2 separate regions of the Homo sapiens genome follow, and region 2 is linked to region 1. The links come from fine-mapping of genetic effects on plasma protein levels. A gene starts in region 1. The other region holds a variant in brackets. All regions are shown on one strand. Distances are from middle to middle.

Region 1 (2,900 bases):
CCAACTGCCAGACTTCCTGGGGGCCCTGCAGCAGCCTCGCGCCCCGCGTTCCGGGCGGCTCCAAGAGAGAGCGGAGCAAGTGTCCCGGGCCCTTCAGCCAGCCCTGGATAGCTACTTCCATCCCCCGGGGACTCCCGCGCCGGGACGCGGGGTGGGACCAGGCGCGGGACCTGGGGCGGGGGACGGGACTTAAATAAAGGCAGACGCTGTTTTTCTACCCATGTGGCCCACACGCGTCTCCGTTTCAGTGGCGGGGCTGGCAAACGTCATTCCCTAGCCCCGCGGCCCTTTAAAGCCCGGACAGGTGCAGCTCGGTGCCGCCTCTGGTTGGCTGGCGTGGGGTGACGTAATGGCACATGGCCCGTCGCCATTGGCTGGGCGGCAAGCTCCGCCCCCTGGACTGCGGCGCGGGTGGGGGTTGTGCGTTTTACGCAGGCTGTGGCAGCGACGCGGTGAGGAGACGGCCCACGGCGCCCGCGGGCTGGGGCGGTCGCTTCTTCCTTCTCCGTGGCCTACGAGGGTCTGGATCCTTCTCTGCCGGCTCGTGGGCCGTGCCTTTGCCCTTCTGCGAGGCCCTGAATCTGATCCCTTCCCTTCATATCCGGATCCGGGCTCCTCCCTCCAAGCCCGGGGTTCCGGACACCTCCCCCAAGACAACCCCTCTGGCCTCCTCTCCTTCAGTACTTGGAATCTGATCTCTTCTCCCTAATTCTGCGGATCCGGCCCCTAATATTCTTTATCAGACCCTCAGACAAGAGGCTGACTTCTGCCCCCTTGTCAAGGAGCGAGGCCACTTTCCTCTCCACCCCATGCTAGCGAGGATAACTTATTTCTCTTCTGGAATTGCATCTTATGCGCCTTTCCCCACCCATCCCCACAGCCCCTGCAATACCCAGTTTGGCCTCTTTTGCTTGTAATAACGCAGATCCCAGCGCCACGGCACCTTAGAACAGACCTTTTTCTTTCTCGCGTGGGGCCTGACTCCTTCAGTGAAGCCTCTCCACGCCCTCTATCTGCAGGTCCCCAGCCTGGGTAAAGATGGCCCCATGGCCCCCGAAGGGCCTAGTCCCAGCTATGCTCTGGGGCCTCAGCCTCTTCCTCAACCTCCCAGGACCTATCTGGCTCCAGCCCTCTCCACCTCCCCAGTCTTCTCCCCCGCCTCAGCCCCATCCGTGTCATACCTGCCGGGGACTGGTTGACAGCTTTAACAAGGTGGGTGCACCGGCAGCCTCGTTAGAGGGGAACACAGCGATTTAGAGTGGGGAACTCTGGGATGCAAATCTGCGTGGATTTAAGTTTCATCTTGGTCTCTTACTAGTTGTATGGCCCTAGGCAGGTTGCCTTTCTGTGCCTCAGTTTCCTAGTCAGTAGAACAGTGAAGTGCTAGCATGTGCCAGGCACTGTACTTAGCTATTACTAATTTTCTGTTTCCAGGGCCTGGAGAGAACCATCCGGGACAACTTTGGAGGTGGAAACACTGCCTGGGAGGAAGAGAATTTGTCCAAATACAAAGACAGGTAAGGGGCTGCTGGGGGAAGGGGTGTATATTCCCCTCCCCGCCAAATCTCTGCTCTGCTGGTGTAGGGCTAGGAACTCTTGGGGAGCACTTATTCATTCAACAAATAGCACTGAACATCTATAGTATAGCAGTAAACAAGGCAAGCAAAATGCCCCCTTCCTGGAGCTCACATTCTAGTAGAGAAGACAAGCAGTGAATGAGTAAGTGAATAATATTATGTCAGATGAAGAACAAACAGTGAAGCACGGTAGACTGCAGGACGGTGGGAGGCAAGGTGTTCAAGGTTTGGCATTTGAACAGAGAGACAGGAAGTGAAGAAGCGAGCTATGTGACAGGGAGGGAATTGGGCAGAGGATGGGACTGAGCTTGGTGTATTTGAGAAGTGGCTGGAGTGGAGTGAGCCAAGGGGAGAGTGCTAGAAGGTGAAGGCAAAGGCTTAAGCCTCGAGGGCTACAGAAAAGAGTTTAGATTTTTTTTGGAGTGTAATGGGAAGCTCTTGGAAGGCTATGAGCAGAAAAAGTGATACTGTCTTCTCTACACCTTTAAAGATTACTCACACTGCTATGTAGCAAACGGATTGTAAGGGGCAAGGGCGGAGGAAGCAGGGAGACCAGTTTGGGAGGCAAGTGCATCATCTAGGTACAAAGGCAACACAAGCTAGTGTGGTATCTAGTGGAGGACATGATGAAGAGGTCACAGTCTGGGTATATTTTGCAGAGAGAACAATAGGACCTGGTGATAGATTCATTATGGGTATAGAGAAACAGTAGAATAAAAGATGCTTACTAGATTTTGGGCCTGAGCAACTGGGTGAGTAGTGCAGCTGTTTTCTAAGATGGTGAGATGCGAAACCGAGAAGGTTTAGGGGAGGGGTGGGATGTGGTGTTCTTTGAACGTATTGGGCTGAAATGTCCATTAGACATCCAGGTAGACTCCATACAAATCTGGAATTCAGAAAAGAGTAGGAATTGGAAACAGGAATTTGAGAGTTGTCATTATATAGTCAGTATGTAAAGAAAGCCATGGGAAGGATACAGAAAGCCATTATATAGTCAATATATGTAATACAGAAAGCCATTTATATAGTCAGTATGTAAAGAAAGGCATGGGAAGGATACAGAAAGGCGAGCCCTGAGCCCTCCAGCTTTTCAAAGTCAGATGGAAGAGGAGTCAGCAAAGGCTCAGAGTTAGACCTGGTTGTCGGTTCTTAACCTCTCAGAGCCACAGTTTCTTCACCTGTAAAATGGGGATATTAATACCTGGTTTGCCTATTTCATAGAAGTGTGGAAAAGGCTTAACTGGGATGCCCACTAGAAATAAAGGTTTTGTTATTATGTAACATTGGTCATTTTCTCTTTTCCTTCGCCGGGCCTGAGTTTCC
Region 2 (2,900 bases), 10 kb after region 1:
GGCCTGCTGAGAGCTGTCCTAGGCCGGGGGTGTGGTGAGATGCAGGGTAATCACAACGATGATGGCAGGGACCATTTCCCCAGCAATTACTGTGTCAGATGCTGTTCTAGGTGCATTCCCCATCTTAACTGATTTAACCCCTGAAACAACCCGACGCTGGAAGTTGGGTTCTCATCCCCACTCTACATATGTAAAAATGAAGATGCAGAGAGATGAAGCTACTTTCCCAGGGCTATATGGCAAGCAAGTCGCAAAGCTGGGATCCCAATCCAGACAGTCTGACCGTGGAACGAGACTCATACACGTAATAAATGCTCTGCCCCCAACTTGTCCACCACATGGCCTTGGCAAGTCCAACCCCTTTACCTCTCTGAGCCTCACTTTCCCATTTAGTGAGACAGGGATGGTAACTGCCCCTTGCAGGGTGGTTTTGAGCAGTAAATGTAGTGTGCCTGGCTTGCTGGGCAGGCCTGGTGGCCATGATGATCAGGTGTGTGGGAGTTCTGGGGAGACTCCAAGAACTACCAGGAACAGGGATACGAGTGCCAGGCTGCATCTCTTGCTCCTCTGCAGAGTCAGCAGGCTTCTTCTCAGAGATGACAGAAGACGAGTTGGTGGTGCTGCAGCAGATGTTCTTTGGCATCATCATCTGTGCACTGGCCACGCTGGCTGCTAAGGGCGACTTGGTGTTCACCGCCATCTTCATTGGGGCTGTGGCGGCCATGACTGGCTACTGGTTGTCAGAGCGCAGTGACCGTGTGCTGGAGGGCTTCATCAAGGGCAGATAATCGCGGCCACCACCTGTAGGACCTCCTCCCACCCACGCTGCCCCCAGAGCTTGGGCTGCCCTCCTGCTGGACACTCAGGACAGCTTGGTTTATTTTTGAGAGTGGGGTAAGCACCCCTACCTGCCTTACAGAGCAGCCCAGGTACCCAGGCCCGGGCAGACAAGGCCCCTGGGGTAAAAAGTAGCCCTGAAGGTGGATACCATGAGCTCTTCACCTGGCGGGGACTGGCAGGCTTCACAATGTGTGAATTTCAAAAGTTTTTCCTTAATGGTGGCTGCTAGAGCTTTGGCCCCTGCTTAGGATTAGGTGGTCCTCACAGGGGTGGGGCCATCACAGCTCCCTCCTGCCAGCTGCATGCTGCCAGTTCCTGTTCTGTGTTCACCACATCCCCACACCCCATTGCCACTTATTTATTCATCTCAGGAAATAAAGAA[A/G]GGTCTTGGAAAGTTAAAAGGCATCAGTCTTACTACCTGTCCCACCACCCCCACCTTAGGGAAATGTCCTAGAATCCTGGGAAATTGAGGGCTTCTTTGATGGTGAGTGGAGAAAAGATAGAGGAGAAGGTTGCCCCTGAAGTGCTGTTAGGAGAAGGAGGATAGAGGAATCAGCCTTAGGAGGGTTCCATGCCAGCTGTCATTTGGCAAAGGACCCTGGACAGATGACTTTTGCCTCTGAACTTCACTCTTCTCTTTCCTCAAATGGGCTTCATAATGCTTTCCACTCAGGCTTAACATGAGAATTAAATGAGGTGACAAATGTGAAGACCTGGACAGTACACAACAGATATTCAATAAAAGTGTGGTCGCCATTATGACCAGAGCCTCCAAGCCTCAAGCAACCTTTCCTCGGAGTCCTGCTCTCCGTCCAATACACAGGACTTAGAATGACTGGGAGGCAGGGCCTCCAGTCTCTCCTTCCTCCTATGAGTACAGGATCCTGGCATGGCCAGAGGGAAGCATGAGCCAAGTCCTAAGGGTTTATTTCTTTGGCACAAAGAGGACAATCTAGACAAGCGAGGCTCATCACTCCACGTTGGGGAGTCTGGGGCACCTGCTCCCTGTTCTTCATGCCCGAATCCATGCACACCCACCCTGTATTCCGCATAAGACACGGCCTCTGTGCAAAATGCCGGCTGAAAAAAAAATAGAAATATTAAAAGCAAAAAACGGCATGGGGGTGGGGTGAGTTCAAACCTGGCTGTCCCCCGGGGGTTGCCGTCAGGTAGAGAGGCCTGGGGATGCCTTTTTTTTTTTTTTTTTTTTTTTTTTTTTTGAGACGGAGTCTCACTCTTGTCACCCAGGCTGGAGTGCAATGGCGTGGTCTCGGCTCACTGCAACCTCTGCCTCCCTGTTCAAGCAATTCTCCCGCCTCAGCCTCCCGAGTAGCTGGGACTACAGGCGTGTGCCACCTGGCTAATTTTTTTGTATTTTTAGTAGAGACGAGGGTTTCGCTATGTTCGAGACCAGGAGGCTGATCTCGAACTCCTGACCTCGTGTTCCACCCACCTCGGCCTCCCAAAGTGCTGGGATTCCTGGCGTGAGCCACCGCGCCTGGCCAGGATGCCCATTTTTTAAAGGCTCAACTGTCCCAGTAGGCCATGCCATGTGGGCATCGGGCAGGGTCCTGGCCCTGCGTCAGGACCGCTCTTCAAAGCTCGATGGTATCACTGGAGGCGCTGCGGGATTCCCCAGGCTTGCCGCGCGGCTGGACCTCTCCCTGGCCGTCCCCCTGCCGAGCGGCGGTAGAATCAGGGGCTGGGGTCGGGGCAGGCAGTAGCTGTACCGTGCTGGGCAACTCATCTAGGGGCAGACTGTCCACTGATGACAGCCCGTGGCGCCAGGGGTTCCAACTGATCTTGAGTGAACCCCTGGAGAAGCTGTCGAGGGAGCTGCCAGAAGCCGCAGCGGCTGCCCCGTCGGGTGCTTCCACTACGTGCTGTGGGACCGGCCCGCGCACGCGCACGTCGCTGAGCGACCTGCAGCGGCCGCGGAGGAGCGAGGAGCCAGCGTCGTCGAGCTCGGCTTTGGGATGGCTGCCCCGGCGCGGCCGCAGAGCGCCTCCAGGCGGCGGGGAGGCCAGGCCGCGGAGGCCGCAGCGCTGGAACACACTGTC

The links. A credible set is the group of variants that fine-mapping cannot tell apart. PIP is the posterior inclusion probability: the model's chance that the variant is causal. The UK Biobank Pharma Proteomics Project read protein levels with antibody pairs (Olink). The fine-mapping took linkage between variants from a reference panel, not from the people measured, so its PIPs are less certain.
Region 2: its variant is the best candidate, but not a certain one, in a credible set for the plasma level of the CRELD1 protein (UK Biobank, PIP 0.61).

Annotation. Positions count from the first base shown.
Region 1 is chr3:9,933,401-9,936,300 of GRCh38, forward strand. CRELD1 (CRELD disulfide isomerase 1) reads left to right here and starts at 434. Exons shown (of 11, transcript NM_001077415.3): 1 at 434-520; 2 at 1,020-1,212; 3 at 1,435-1,517. The coding sequence starts at 1,039. It overlaps IL17RC (interleukin 17 receptor C), which reads left to right. Exons shown (of 19, transcript NM_153460.4): 19 at 1-221. The coding sequence ends at 193. RefSeq lists a silencer at 46-375 and an enhancer at 476-845.
Region 2 is chr3:9,943,792-9,946,691 of GRCh38, forward strand. It overlaps CRELD1 (CRELD disulfide isomerase 1), which reads left to right. Exons shown (of 11, transcript NM_001077415.3): 11 at 574-1,615. The coding sequence ends at 788. PRRT3 (proline rich transmembrane protein 3) reads right to left here. Exons shown (of 4, transcript NM_207351.5): 4 at 1,751-2,900. The coding sequence ends at 2,436. Among named protein-coding and RNA genes, the nearest start is that of PRRT3-AS1, 2.2 kb to the right of the region's middle. RefSeq lists an enhancer at 1,881-2,543. The variant A/G (reference allele first, on the strand shown) is at 1,223.